Linked DNA regions of Homo sapiens: region 2 is linked to region 1. Evidence: fine-mapped expression QTL. Tissue or cell type: whole blood. Region 1 holds a variant in brackets; the other region holds the start of a gene. All regions are shown on one strand. Distances are from middle to middle.

Evidence for each region. PIP is the estimated chance that this variant, and not a neighbour inherited with it, causes the effect.
Region 2: ZFAND4 starts here. The variant in region 1 is fine-mapped to the expression of ZFAND4 in whole blood (INTERVAL, PIP 0.98).

The regions. Positions count from the first base shown.
Region 1 is chr10:45,492,266-45,500,265 of GRCh38, forward strand. All of the region lies in intron 2 of MARCHF8 (membrane associated ring-CH-type finger 8), which reads right to left. The region is part of intron 1 of LOC105378286 (a long non-coding RNA gene); the gene reads left to right. Among named protein-coding and RNA genes, the nearest start is that of MARCHF8, 39 kb to the right of the region's middle. The variant T/A (reference allele first, on the strand shown) is at 4,511.
Region 2 is chr10:45,668,570-45,676,569 of GRCh38, forward strand. ZFAND4 (zinc finger AN1-type containing 4) reads right to left here and starts at 4,203. Exons shown (of 10, transcript NM_174890.4): 1 at 3,681-4,203. RefSeq lists a silencer at 3,786-4,505.

The DNA.
Region 1 (8,000 bases):
CACTGCTCTTTTTCTTCTTCTTCTTCTTCTTCTTTTTTTTTTTCTTTTTTGATACGTAGTCTCGCTCTGTCGCCCAGGCTGGAGTGCACTGGTGCAATCTCGGCTCACTGCACGCTCCGCCTCCCAGGTTCATGCCACTCTCCTGCCTCAGCCTCCCAAGTAGCTGGGACTACAGGCGCCCACCACCATGTCCGGCTCAGTTTTTGTATTTTTAGTAGAGACGGGGTTTCACTGTGTTAGCCAGGATGGTCTCGATCTCCTGACCTCGTGATCTGCCCGCCTCGGCCTCCCAAAGTGCTGGGATTACAGGCGTGAGCCACTGCGCCCAGCCTAAACACTGCTCTTTAGATGTCCATTTATTTGGACTTAAAATATATAGTGCAGGACAACATCAGAGATATTTTCCAGAAAGCAAGTCCCAAAACTCATTCAAATCAGTCATTCTTTCCACACTTATTTACTATGCAACTACTATGTGTGAACAACTGTGTCAGGCATAGAATATGGACCAAAATCTCACTCCTAACCATATGCCAATGATAATATTGAGAATCCCTTATTTGAAATGCTTGGGACCAGAACTGTTTCATATTTCTGAGTTTTTTGGACTTTGGAATATTTGCATTATACTTACAGGTGGAGCATCCCAAATCTGAGAATTCAAAATCTGAAAGGTGACAATGAGCACTTACTTTGAGTGTCATGCTGACATTCCAAAGTTTCAGATTTTGAAGCATGCTGGATTTCGAGTTTGTGGATTAGGGACGCTCAACGTGTATTACCACTGAACTCCTCTGAAAAAGTGTTTTGGTGAGAAATGTCCAAACTAGGGAAGAGCTTAAGAATGACATAAAAGAAGCACATACATAAAGTATATCAAGGTGGAAGTGTGACACCACTCTGCCCTGTAGTCAGAATGGCATCTTGGTTCTGAATGAGAAGTAAAGTTTGCCAAGCATCAATGTAAAGAAGTGGAATTAGACATACCAAGGAGAAAAAAGTTCCAGTTCAAGCCCAAACTAAGCTTCAATGCCCAAGTAATAAAAACCCTGGCAAATTATTTACAGCTCTTTAACACATTCAGTCACTGCTTACTGGATACCACCACCTTGTGACCCCAGGAGAGATGGAAGCCTCGCTGCATCTTCCTTCCTTCCTCAGAGAAGGTACTAAGAGATGCCACACACTACCCTGGCTTTCATCTCCACATCTCTCTGGTGGGCTCTTTTCATCTACATTCAACATGAGAGCTCCTCAGAACACAGCCTCATGCCCTCTAGATTTCATTTGTTTTCTCCTTTAGCCAGTGCTTTTCCAACTCTGGACACCTAATCATTTAGGGATCTTGCTAAAATGTAGATTGTGGTTTGTTAGGTCTAGGGGGGACTCAGATTTCTGCATTTCCAAAAAGCTCCCAGGTGACTCCCATGCTGCTGTCCCCAGACCACAGTTTGAGGTGCAAGTTTTCATTCCAAATCTTGAACCAGAAAAATCAATAAAGTCTATGAGTTTTGTTTGTTTGTTTTTAAGACAGGGTTTTGCCATGTTGTCCAGGCTGGAGGACAGTAGCTATTCACGAGTACCATCATGTCATACTACAGTCTCTAATTCCTGGGCTCAAGTGATCCTCCCACCTCAACCTCCCAAGTAGCTGAGATTACAGGCATACTACTGCACCCAATTTATGACTCATGTTTTAAAAAGCAAATCATGACCATTTTAAAAGTAAATTCCTATGTAAAAGATGGCTGTGAGCCCACAATTGAGTTAATACAAATCAATCAATCAGGAAACACAATGGTACAGATTGGGAAAGACTGAGTCTGAGGGTGTGAGAAAACAAAGTTTTCTTAATGTGAGAAGCTACCAGATCACAAAGATAAAGAGAAGCTCTGCTGAAGAATAAGGCACATTTTACAATTTAATCAGTGCTGTCAATGATGTTTTTCACAAGTCCACATGTGGCTCCCAACAGAATGTACTTGTGGGTAGAGCCAAGGCATAAAACTCACATAGACCAAATACACCCTGGAAAGTAGAAACCAATAATTATCAAGAAGACAACGAGGTGAGATGCCTAAGCGAGTTTTTGGGATTCTGTATGAAAGAGTCAAACAATAGGACTTCATCATGTGGGGTTTTCCTGAAACTCTGACCAGGACTGGTCCTTAAAAAAAAAGACAAAATATGTGGGCAATGAACACCGCTAACTACATACTCAATACCTATCTCCCTTTGTCCCCACCAAAAGAACCCTGACTTTGTCCTGAGCAGCAACAAACCCAGCTAAAAGTTCTCACTTTTCCACACTACTTTGCAGTTAAGGAAAACTATTAAATATATAAAAAGTTCTTTTGAAAGAAATTAACTAAAGATTTCCTGGGAAAACATTTTGCTTTCCTGATATTGCCATTGCCCATTTCTCTGGAATTCCTCCTCCCTCATCCAGCCTGGAATATAGACGTAATACCACGAAGTAAAGCAGTTCACTTTGGGACTATGAAGAAGATAGTTACTAGAAGTCTGAAACTTTTTGGTCTCAGGACCCCTTTATCCTGTAAAAAATGATTAAGGGCCAAGCGTGGTGACTCACACCTGTAATCCCAGCACTTGGGAGGCCGAGGTGGGAGGATCACCTGAGGTCAGGAGTTCGAGACCAGCCTGGCCAACATGGTGAAACCCCATCTCTACTAGAAATACAAAAATTAGCTGGGCGTGGTGGCACATGCCTGTAATGCCAGCTACTTGGGAGGCTGAGGCAGGAGAACTGCTTGAACCTGAAAGGCAGAGGTTGCAGTGAGCCGAGATCGCGCGACTGAACTCCAGCCTGGGCAACAAAAGCAAAACTCCATCTCAAAAAAAAAAAAAGAAAAGAAAAAGATTAAGGACTCCCAAAACCTTTGGATTATGTAGGGTTTTATCTATGGGTATTTGCAATATTAGACATTAAAACTGACAGCGTAAAAACTATATCTCTTAATTCATTTAGCATTAGTAATAAACCCAGTTAACATAAATAACATTTCAATGAAGTTTAACTATTTTCTCAAAAAAAAAAAAATTAGTGAGCAGAGTGGCACTCCTGTACATTTTTATAAATCTCATTGTTTAATAGAAGACAGCTAGATTCCTGCATCTGTTTATGTATTAAATCTCTTCTGATCTGATGCTTTTGTGAGGACCCATTCAAAACTCAGAGTTGACATAATCATGATTTTAAGCTGAAGACATCTGATATTCAATGAATGCAGGAAGAAGCCCTCTCCATACTTCCCTTATATGATTAAAAGCAGAAACTGTGACAAATGAGGCTGCCATAAATTCCCTCTTCAACGGTTTACTCCCAGGAAGGAGATCAAGAGTAAACGTACCATAATTCCCCTGTCTAGGAGGAGTTTTATGGCCATGAAGAAGAGGAAAAGACACTCCCATCTACACAAACATTATCACAAGCTTTCTTATCTCTTAATTTGTTAGGAGGGGAGGGGAGGGGAGGGGAGGGGATGCTAGGGGAGGGGAGGGAGACAGGCAGGAAGGTGGGGAGGGGAGAAAGGAAAGGAAGAAAAGAGAAAAGAGAAAAAAGAAAAGAGAAGAAGAGAAGAGAGAAAAGAAAAGAAAAGAAAGGAGAAAGGAAAAGAAAAACTAAAAGCAGCAGGAAATAAATGACTCATCATATTCTCCATGGTACATGGGAACCACAAAAAGATTAACAGCTGACTTATCCTCAGAAACCAGGGAGGCCAGAGACAGTGGAAGGACATAAAGAACTCAAAGAAAAAAAATGTGAACCAAGATAATTATATTCAGCAAAACTATCTTCAAAAATGAAGATGAAAAATACATTCATAGATAAACAGAAACTCAGAGAATTCATTGCAAGTGGATGCACCTGAAAAGAAATACTAAAGGAAGTTCTTTGAGTTGAAAGCATGTACTGCCAAACAGTAGTCAAAAGTAACTGTGTAACTATAAGACAATATAAATGCATATATATTTTGCATATATATTTTCCTTTCTTAAATAATTTAAAAAGGAATTATATAAAAACTATGTTTATAATTGTATTGTTAAACCTATAACATAAAGAAATGTAATGTATTTAATAGTAATACAAGATAAGTGGGTACAAAGTTGTCATCATTATACTAATATCAGACGAAACAGAATTCAGAAAATTTTACCAGAGATAAAGAGGGACTTCTACTATGAAAGGTTGGCATAAGGAAATGATATCACATGGAAACTCTACACTGAAACAAATGAAGATAATAAGGAGTGCTAACTTTAAAATAACAAACTGTATAAACATATAATGCTCTCCTTTCCTTTATGTCTTTAAAAGACAGTTAAATAAACTAATAACTGCTACAATGTATTGTTGGGTTTGTAACATAAATAGATATGTATAAACAATAATTAGTAAAGAAATAGAGGTACATAGGAGGAATCATTCTATGTCTTACAGGAATTAAATCAATATGAATCTGAAGAAGATTCTGTTAGAAAAATA[T/A]ATATATATATAGTAAACCCTCAACCATTAAGAAAATAATTTTTTAAATAGCATTAGAAATCTTTTTTAAAAATCATTTAAGGAATTAAAATATTACAATACAAAATAATGCAAAAGAAAGCAATAAAGGAAGAACACAGGAACAAAAATGGCAAGACACATAGAAAACAAAAAGTAAAATGGCAAACAAGCAAACCATATCATTAATAGCATGAACTGCAAATGGATTAACAAATCAACAGGAAGGGTTGTCAGGATGTACAATAACACAAAATCCAGTTGTATTCTAAGTTCAGGAGATACAATTAGACTCAAAATTATAAACAGGATTACAGTAAAAGAAGCAAAAAGATACATAGCACAAAAACAACCACCATAAAAAGGGGTAGTCATTATATTAATATCAGATAAAAAAGACTTAGGAAAATTTTACTAGAGCTAAAGAGGGACTTTTACTATGATAAGGTCAACCATCATGAAGGTATAATAATTATAAATATATAAGCACCTAATATGAAAACCACAAAATACATAAAGCAAGAACTGACAGAGCTGACTGAAAAACAGATAATACTTGCAGACTTCAAAATCCTGCTTTCAACAATGAACAGCCGAGCTATGTAAAAGACTTGAACAGCACTAAACCAACTTGACCTAACAGACATCCACAGAATACAAAACCCAACAACAACAACAGAATATACATTCTTCTCAAGTGCACAACAACAGACTATAGAGTAGTCCACAAAACAAACATCAGTAAATGTAAAAGGACTCAAATCATATACAGTATGATTCTGGCTACAACAGAGTTAAACTTTAGAGTTAAATGTTATTGTTTATCAACAGCAGAGAGAAACTACCAAATTCACAAATGCGGAAATTAAACAACAAAATCTGAAATAACCAGTAAATCAAAAAAGAACTCACCAAAAAAAAACTAGAAAATTTATTTGAGATTCATAAAAATGAAGTCACAAAATACCACACTTACACAATGCAACTAAAATAGTGCTTAGGGGGATATTTATAGCTGTAAATGACAAGATTAAAGAAAGGTACAGAGAAAACGCAGTCATATGTAAGTCAGAAAGAAAGGCCTACCAGAAACCAAATTTTCTGGCAACGTGATTTTGGACTTCTTGTCTCCAAAAATGTGAGAAATTAAATTTCTGTTACTTAAGCCACCCAGTCTGTGGTATTTTGTTATGGCAGCCTGAACAGACTAATACAAACATCTACTAAAAAACTACAGGTAACATTATACTTAATGGTGAAAGATTGAATGCTTACTCCCTAAATTTTAACAGCAATTCTATCTGCTTTCACCATTTCTTTTTAACATTTTAATTGTGGCAAAATACACACAATGTAAACACACCATCATATAAAGTATGCATAATATAAAATTCACCATCTTAACCATTTTAAGTGTACAGTTCAGTATTAAGTATATTCACATTGTTGCACAATCTACAGAACTTTTTCATCTTGCAAAAACTGAAACTCTATACTCATTAAACAATTCCCTATATCTTCCTACCCCCGAAATATTTTTAAAAATTTTTACTTTCTGTTTCTATGATTCTGACTACTCTAGATACTTTATACAAGTGGAATCATAACAGTATTTTTCTTTTTGCGATTAGCTCACTTCACTTGGCATAATGTCCTCAAGATTCCTCCGTGTTGTAGCATGTGTCAGAAGCCTTTTTTTTTTTGAGAAGTCTCGCTCTGTCACCCAGGCTGGAGTGCAGTGGCATGATCTCGGCTCACTGCAACCTCTACCTCCTGGGTTCAAGCAATTCTCCTGACTCAGCCTCCCAAGTAGCTGGGATTACAGGTATACACCACTACATCCAGCTAATTTTTGTATTTTTAGTAGAGATGGCATTTCACCATGTTGGCCAGGCTGGTCTCAAACTCCTGACCTCAGGTGATCCTCCCTCCTCGGCCTCCCAAAGTGCTAGAATAACAGGCGTGAGCCGCTGTGCCCAGCCAGAATCCTTTTCTTTTTAAAACAAATGTGAAACTATATGCAATAAATGTACCATATTTTATTTATTCATTCACCCTTTGATGGACACTTGTATTGCTTCCACCCTTTGGCACTGTAAATAATGTTGCTATGAACACAGGTATACAAATATCTCTTTGAGACCTGGCTTTTAATTCTTTGGGGTATATACCCAGAAGTGGATTTCCTGGGTCATACAGTAATAATTATCTTTTACTTTTTAAGGAACTCCTATACTGTTTTCCATTGTGGTTGCACTATTTTACATTCCTATTAGCAGTGCACAATCAGCGTTCCACTTTGTTCGGATCCTCATCAACACATTTTTAAAATATATATAACAGCCATCCTTGATGGTTGTAAAGTGGTATCTCACTGTGGTTTTGATTTGCGTTTCCCTAATTATCAATGATGTTGACCATCTTTTCATATGCCTACTAGCCATTTGTATATCCTCTTTGGAAAAGTGTCTATTCAAGCATTTTAGAATCAGATTATTTGTTGCTGTTGAGATGTAGGAGTTCTTTATATATTCTAGATATTATCCCTTTATCAGATATATGATTTGTAAATATCTCCCATTCCCTAAGTGGCCTTTCCACCCTGTCCACTGTTTCCTTTGATGCCCAGAAGTTTTAAATTTTGATGTAATCTAATTTCTGTATTTTTACTTCTGTTGCCTTTGCTTTTGGTGTCATATCCAAAAAATTTTTGCCAAATCCAAAGTCAAGAAGCTTCTTTCCCTAGGTTTTCTTTTAAGAATTTTATAGTTTTAAGTCTTAGATCCATTTTGAGCTAATCTTTCTACATGGTGTAAAGTAAGGGTCCAATTGTATTCTTTTGCCTCTTAATATCCAGACCCCTGCCACCCCCACCAATATCATTTGTTGAAAAGACTGTCCTTTCCTCACTGACTAGTCTCGGCGCCATTGTGGGAAATCATTTGGCCAAATATGTGAGGCTTTATTTCTGGGACTCTCTATTCTATTCCATTGGTTTCTATGTCTATCTTATGCCAGTACCACACTAACTTGTTTACTGTAGCTTTGTAATAAGTTTTGAAGTCAGGGAGCATCACACCATCACTTTGTTCTTTTTGTTCAAATTGTTCTGGCTATTCAGGATCCCTTGTGATTCCATATAAATTACAGGACAGATTTATCTATTTCTGTAAAACAAAAGTCACTGAGATTTTGAGAAGGATTATACCGAATATACAGATTGATTTGGGCAGTACTGTCATCTTAACAATATTAAGTTTTCCAATAAACACAGGATGTCTTCCCATTTATTTTATGTCTTCTTTAATTTCTTTCATCAATATATAGTAGTTTTCTGTGTATAAGTCTTTACCACTTTGGTTAAGTTTATTCCTATTTTATGCATTTTTGATGCCATTGTAAATAGGACTGTTTTCTCAATATCCTTTTTAGATTGTTCATTATTAGTATATAGAAACACAGCTGATTTGTG
Region 2 (8,000 bases), 180 kb after region 1:
TAAAAGACATTTTAATGTCTGGCAAATTCTTCTCAGCACCACATCGCACTTATTCCAAAGTTGACCACATAGCTGGAAGTAAAGCACTCCTTAGCAAATGTAAAACAACAGAAATCACAACAAACTGTCTCTCAGACCACAGTGCAATCAAATTATAACTCAGGATTAAGAAACTCACTCAAAACTGCACAACTACATGGAAACTGAACAACCTGCTCCTGAATGACTACTGGGTAAATAACGAAATGAAGGCAGAAATAAAGATGTTCTTTGAAACCAATGAGAACAAAGACACAACGCACCAGAATCTCTGGGACACATTTAAAGCAGTGTGTACAGGGAAATTTATAGCACTAAATGCCCACAAGAGAAAGCAGGAAAGATCTAAAATTGACACCCTAAAATCACAATTAAAAGAACTAGAGAAGCAAGAGCAAACAAATTCAAAAGCTAGCAGGAGGCAAGAAATAACTAAGATCAGAGCAGAACTGAAGGAAATAGAGACACAAAAATCCCTTCAAAAAATCAATGAATCTGAGAGCTGGTTTTTTGAAAAGATCAACAAAATTGATAGATTGTTAGTAAGACTAAAGAATCAAATAGATGCAATAAAAAAAGATAAAGGGGATATCACCAGCGATCCCACAGAAATACAAACTACCATCAGAGAATACCATAAACACCTCTACACAAATAAACTGGAAAATCTAGAAGAAATTGATAAATTCCTGGACACATATACCTTCCCAGGACTAAACCAGGAAGAAGTGGAATCTCTGAAGAAACCAATAACAGGCTCTGAAATTGAGGCAATAATTAATAGCCTACCAACAAAAAAAGTCCAGGTCCAGATGGATTCACAGCCAAATTCTACCAGGGGTACAAAGAGGAGCTGGTACCATTCCTTCTGAAACTATTCCAATCAATAGAAAAAGAGGGAATCCTCCCTAACTCATTTTATGAGGCCAGCATCATCCTGATACCAAAGCCTGGCAGACACACAACAAAAAAAGAGAATTTTAGACCAGTATCCCTGATGAACATCTATGCGAAAATCCTCAATAAAATACTGGCACACCGAATCCAGCAGCACATCAAAAAGCTTATCCACTATGATCAAGTCGGCCTCATCCCTGGGATGCAAGGCTGGTTCAATACAGGCAAATCAATAAATATAATCCATCACATAAACAGAGCCAATGACAAAAACCACATGATTATCTTAATAGATGCAGAAAAGGCCTTTGACAAAATCCAACAGCTCTTCATGCTAAAAACTCTTAATAAACTAGGTATTGATGGAACGTATCTCAAAATAATAAGAGCTATTTATGACAAACTCACAGCCAATATCATAGTGAATGGGCAAAAACTGGAAGCATTCCCTTTGAAAACCGGCACAAGACAGGGATGCCCTCTCTCACCACTCCTATTTAACACAGTGTTGGAAGTTCTGGCCAGAGCAATCAGACAGGAGACAGAAATAAAGGATATTCAATTAGGAAAAGAGGAAGTCAAATTGTCCCTGTTTGCAGATGACATGATTATACATTTAGAAAACCCCATCGTCCCAACCCAAAATCTCCTTAAGCTGATAAACAACTTAAGCAAAGTCTCAGGGTACAAAATCAATGTGCAAAAATCACAACTATCTGATTTTTTTTTTTTTTTTTTGAGACGGAGTTTCACTTTTGTTGCCCAGGCTGGAGTGCAATGGTGTGATCTTGGCTCACCACAACCTCCGCCTCCCAGATTCAAGTGATTCTCCTGCCTCAGCCTCCCTAGTAGCTGGGATTACAGGCATGTGCCACCACGCCCGGCTAATTTTTTTGCATTTTTAGTAGAGATTTCTCCCAACAGGGGTTTCTCCATGTTCGTCAGGCTGGTCTCAAACTCTCAACCTCAGGTGATCCGCCTGCCTCGGCCTCCCAAAGTGCTGGGATTACAGGCGTAAGCCACTGTGCCCAGCCTACAACCATCTTTGACAAACCTGACAAAAACAAGACGTAGGGAAATGATTCCCTATTTAATAAATGGTGCTGGGAAAACTGGCTAGCCATATGTAGAAAGCTGAAACTGGATCCCTTCCTTACACCTTATACAAAAATTAATTCAAGATGGATTAAAGACTTAAATGTTAGACCTGAAACCATAAAAACCCTAGAAGAAAACCTAGGCAATACCATTCAGGACATAGGCATGAGCACGGACTTCATGACTAAAACACCAAAAGCAATGGCAACAAAAGCCAAAATAGACAAATGGGATCTAATTAAACTAAAGAGCTTCTGCACAGCAAAAGAAACTACCATCAGAGTGAACAGGCAACCTACAGAATGGGAAAAAAATTTTGCAATCTACCCATCTGACAGAGGGCTAATATCCAGAATCTACAAAGAACTTAGACAAATTTTCAAGAAAAAAACAACCGCATCAAAAAGTGGGCAAAGGATATGAACAGACAGTTCTCAAAAGAAGATATTTATGCAGCCAACAGACACATGAAAAAACACTCATCATCACTGGTCATCAGAAAAATGCAAATCAAAACCACAGTGAGATACCATCTCACACCAGTTAGAATGGCGATCATTAGAAAGTTAGGAAACAACAGATGCTGGAGAGGATGTGTAGAAATAGGAACACTTTTACACTGTTGGTGGGACTGTAAATTAGTTCAACCGTTGTGGAAAACAGTGTGGCAATTCCTCAAGGATCTAGAACTAGAAATACCATTTGACCCAGCGATCCCATTACTGGGTATATACCCAAAGGATTATAAATCATGCCACTATAAAGACACATGCACACGTATGTTTACTGTGGCACAATTCACAACAGCAAAGACTTGGAACCAACCCAAATGTCCATCAGTGATAGAGTGGATTAAGAATATGTGGCACATATACACCATGGAATACTATGCAGCCATAAAAAAAGGATGAGTTCATGTCCTTTGCATGGACATGGATGAAGCTGGAAACCATCATTCTCAGCAAACTGTCACAAGGACAGAAAACCAAACACCGCCATGTTCTCACTCATAGATGGGAACTCAACAATGAGAACACTTGGACACAGGGAGGGGAACATCACACACTGGGGCCTGTCGTGGGGAGTGAGATGGGGGGAGGGATAGCATTAAGAGAAATACGCAATATAAATGACGAGTTAGTCGGTGCAGAAAACCAACATGGCACATGTATAGCTATGTACCAAACCTGCACGTTGTGCACATGTACCCTAGAACTTAAAAAAAAAAAAAAAATCAATTCCCAAAGCATTTCTCTCATTTCTTCTGAAAAGTTTCTAAAAACACAACTCCAAGGATGAAATGGAAGTTAAAGGTAAACAGGCAATAGCGCTGAATACGTAATTTCAGTAACTCAGAATTTTCTCCAACCTCTGCTCTAAAGAAGCTTAGCTACAGAAGAGCAGTTACCTTTGAAACATTTTCCCCAACATAAAGATATCCGGAATGTGAAGCTGCCATTAAAACTGTGACACAGATCTACATTTACTGATACATCAAAACATCCCTAAAGTTCGAAATACGAGCTACAGAATCACATCAACCGCCTAACTTGTCTGTAGCCTAAACTCTAGTCCGGAGTTCATCTGCAAGCGGAATTGGGAAGTATTTCAGAGCCAGCATCTCCTCGCGCCATCCAGGTACCTACACACTTGAGGCCACCGAGTCACCTGCGCAGCCGTTGCTCCTCCAAGACCAATCCGGGCTCCCCAGACCCACCGGCCTGAATCTGGAGGACAGCAGTCCGCGTGACAACAGCGACTCGGAGATCAGCACCCGTCGGGAAAGCCGCGTACCCGTTGAAGCTGGCGTCACGCCCAAAGGAACAAACGCCAGAGCGTGTGTCCTGGGCAAAGGCGGCCCGCCGCTCCGGTCCCCGGGCAGCAGCGGCCGGCGTCAGGCCGCAAGGCGAGGGGCGGGGACAGGACTCTACCCGGCAGCCCAGCGCCGAGCGCCCGCGCCACTCCGGCCTTGCGCCATTCCGGCCCCACGACGGCCGGCGGCGGCAGCGCGGCTGGGCTCAGCGGCTCGCAGCCCGGGCGCCCCCCCTGCCGGCCGCTCGCTAGCTCAGCCTCACCCGCAGTCTTGTCCGCTGGCTCGCTCGCCCGCCTACAGGTCGACAGGGCCCAACGACCCGGCGAGCAACTTCACGGAAGGCACTGGCCGACAACGCTCCGCTGCCGCCGCGCCCCGCCCCTTTGTGACACCACCTACCAATCGCTGGACGGCGCTTTCGCTGCCCTCCAATCAGCGCGGGCGGGGGCAGGCCTGGCCCCCGGACGTGGGCGGTTGCCGGGGCGCCAGGGCCCTGGGGCCTTCTTGGCATTCGCTGGAGGTTGTGAGTTACGAGGCCCGGATGTTGATCTTTTATTACTAGCAACACTGGACCCCTGACTCGTGCCCACGCGGGCGTCTGGAGGGCAGCCGCATGGCCTGCTGGGAACGGCGGGGTTGAAGCCGGAGCCGCCCTCCGTGAGACCCACCGGGGATCCTCTTCCAGGCGCCTGATTTGCTGGAGATAGGCGATACAGGCAGACGCTGTCCAGTCGGTGGCCTCTCCAGAGTGAGGGGCGCTCCTGGTGCGTTTGGGCCGGCCTGTCCTAACAAATCTGCTTTAGGCTTCACCGTCCCCTAATGTTTCTGGCCTCAATTGCCTCATCTGGAAAATGGGGGCATTACCGTGCCTGCTTGAAGACAAAGGCGAAAACAGATAACTTTCTGTAGTCCTCATACAATTTACTGAGAACTGTAGGCCAGGCAATGGAGTAGGCACCCTGGGCTCAAATCCCAGCGTTGGGTAAGCCCAGCCACACCTCCTGCTCCAGTTTCCAAGCTGCTGAGCTGCGGTGTAAACAGTAACTGGCTTCAAGCCAACACCTGCCTTTCAACCTAACATGGGAGCCCACTGCCTCGTTCCGTTCCCCCTACCGATTTTCCAACTCCGTGAACCTCCTTCACTAAGTGGGTTACTCAGCTGACAAAGAATGTCATCTCACTCCCACTGCGGGTTCACTCATCCTCGACTTCTGGCTCAGAGGAGCCAGTCTAATATGAAACTAAACATCTAATCTGTGTCTCCTGTCCTCTCTCATTCTTCTGAGACCCTACCCACCAACTTATCTCCACAGTTCAACGAACTATTGAGCATACACTGGGGGAGTATGGTGAGGCACTGGGCATTGATTCACCAGTCTCGCCGTTGGTTCCTTCTGAAACTCCACATATGCTTAATGCTAAATAGATTGGAGACCTTTGAGGACAGAGCTATGATGGTAATCATCTTTGCATTCCTGAGCCTAGAATAGGGCCTGTGATGGAGACTTACTGAGTAAAAACCTTAGCGTTTCTCACCCTTGCCTGCCCACTTCATTCACACTGGAGAATTGACAGCATGGACCGTGGAGTCAGGCAGGTGTGTTTAAAGCCTTGCCTCCCAATACCAGAAGCTCCATTACCTGGCCAAGTCATTCATTCTTTACAACATCATCATCATTATCATCTGCCATTCTTCAAGTGCCAGATAGTTGATAAGGGTCTTTACGTATTCTCTCCCCATCACAATCCTGCAAAGTTGGTAGTGAAATCCCTCGTCTACAAAGGAGTAAACAAAAGCCAATTAAAGTAGAACAATTTACCTATAATCAAACAGCTCTATGTCGGAAAGCCATATTTAAACTAGGACACAATACAAAAATCCAACCTTGTTCCATTATTCCACATTGCTTCCAGATTTTAGCTTTATCTGTAAAATTAGTGTTACTACATTACCTATCTGATAGACCATGGAGACTGAATAAAATAGCATTAAAAGTTGTTACCATAGGAACTTTTTTTTAACGTAAGTTCTCTCTCCCTTTCAAGCCTCTCAAAATAGCAGCTTGCGTATTTTCTAAACCTGTTGTCTCCTGAATCCCCTGAAACCAATCCTACTGATTGATGAGTAGATTTAGTTGTTCCAAAAGAAAATCATCGTATTTAACAAATGCTGACTCTGACCGACATTGGGTACTACAGCAAGAAACTATGTGCACAAATAACCTACGGACAGAAGGAAGATGCATAAAATGAATAGGGGAAAGGAGTGGCCAACTAGCAAGTGCCCTCATCTGTCATCACGTCACTCTCACAGCAGACTTGGGCAAATGGTTGACCTGTGGGAGCTGAACAAAATCTTTGACTCTGGGTATGAGTAATTCCCTGTCTGATCTTACAGTGCCCAAGGAAGAAGTCAGTAGCTCCAGGATCGCTGAGACCAACCTGGGCGGCCTACAAGACTGCACCATGGTGACAGGCTGAATAGTCAGCAGCAAGACGACAGAGCACCAAAAAACACAGACTAGAATGGGGTCAGCCATCCAGGTGGCTAGTGGCTACTGCCTTTGACGATGCAGATAAAGAAAATTTTCATTCCTGCAGAGTTCTATGGGGCAGTGCTGCTCTAGAGGCTGACATTTCTATCCTCAGCACTTCCCCCGGCTATTACCTAGGTTCATTCTGCTGCTTCCACAAGGCAAGAATGGAACAGAATGCCTTAGAGCAATGGTCAGCGAACTGTTTATGTAAAGGGGCAGGGCCAGGCGCAGTGGCTCACGCCTGTTATCCCCGCACTTTGGGAGGCCGAGGCAGGTGGATCACGAGGTCAGGAGTTCAAGACCAACCTGGCCAACATGGTGAAACCCCAACTCTACTAAAAATACAAAAATTAGCTGGGTGTGATGGCAGGCGCCTGTAATCCCAGCTACTCGGGAGGCTGAGGCAGGAGCATCGCTTCAACCCAGGAAATAGAGGTTGCAGTGAGCCAAGATCACATGACTGCACTCCAGCCTGGGTGACAGAGCAAGACTCCGTCTCAAAAAAATAAATAAAAGGGGCAGATAGAAAACATCTGAGGCTCTGTGAGCCATCCGGTCTCGTCATAATTACTCAACTCTTACATTGGAGGTAGGGTGAAAGCAACAATAGAAAGTAAGTAAATCAATGAATGTGGTTGTGTTCCAATAAAACTTTATTAACAAGATCAGACAGTGGGGGGGGGGGGGTAGCATAGTTTGCCAAACGAAAATCCAATAAAAATTTATTAAAGATTTAAATGTGGCCAAGCGTGGTGGCTCATGACTGTAATCCCAGCACTTTGGGAAGCGGAGGCGGGTGGATCACAAGGTCAGGAGGTCGAGAACATCCTGGCCAACATGGCAAAACCCTGTCTCTACTAAAAGCACAAAAATTAGCTGGGCGTGGTAGCGCGTGCCTATAGTCCCAGCTACTCAGGAGGCTAAGGCAGGAGAATCACTTGAACCCGGGAGGCGAAGGCTGCAGTGAGTCGAGATCGCACCACTGCACTCCAGCCTGGGCAACAGAGCGAGACTCTGTCTCCAAAAAAAAAAAAATCAAAAAACAACATTTAAGTGTAAGACCTGAAATGAGAAAACTTTTCTTTTAGGTTTTTGTCTAGAAGTTTCTAGGTATTGATCTTGACAATAATTTACAGAATATGTCACAAAAGTGGAGACATGAAAAGCCAAACTAAACATGGGACAATGCCAAATTGAAAACCTTCACAGCAAAGAAACCAATGAACAAATTAAAAAGCTTTTTAACAATTATCCAAAATACCTAAAGAACTTGTATTAATAAATAGGAAAAAAAACTGAAACAAAACAGAAAAGCATCAAAAAGCTTAAAAATAAGCAGATTTGGCCGGGCACGGTGGCTCATGCCTGTAATCCCAGCACTTTAGGAGGCCGAGGTGGACGGATAACCTGAGGTCGGGAGTTCGAGACCAGCCTGACCAACATGGAGAAACCCTATCTCTACTAAAAATACAAAATTAGCCGGGCATGGTGGCACATACCTGTAATCCCAGCTACTAGGGAGGCTGAGGCAGAAGAATCTCTTGAGCCCGGGAGGCGGAGGTTGTGGTGAGCCAAGATCATGCCACCAGTCTGGGCAACAAGAGCTAAACTCCGTC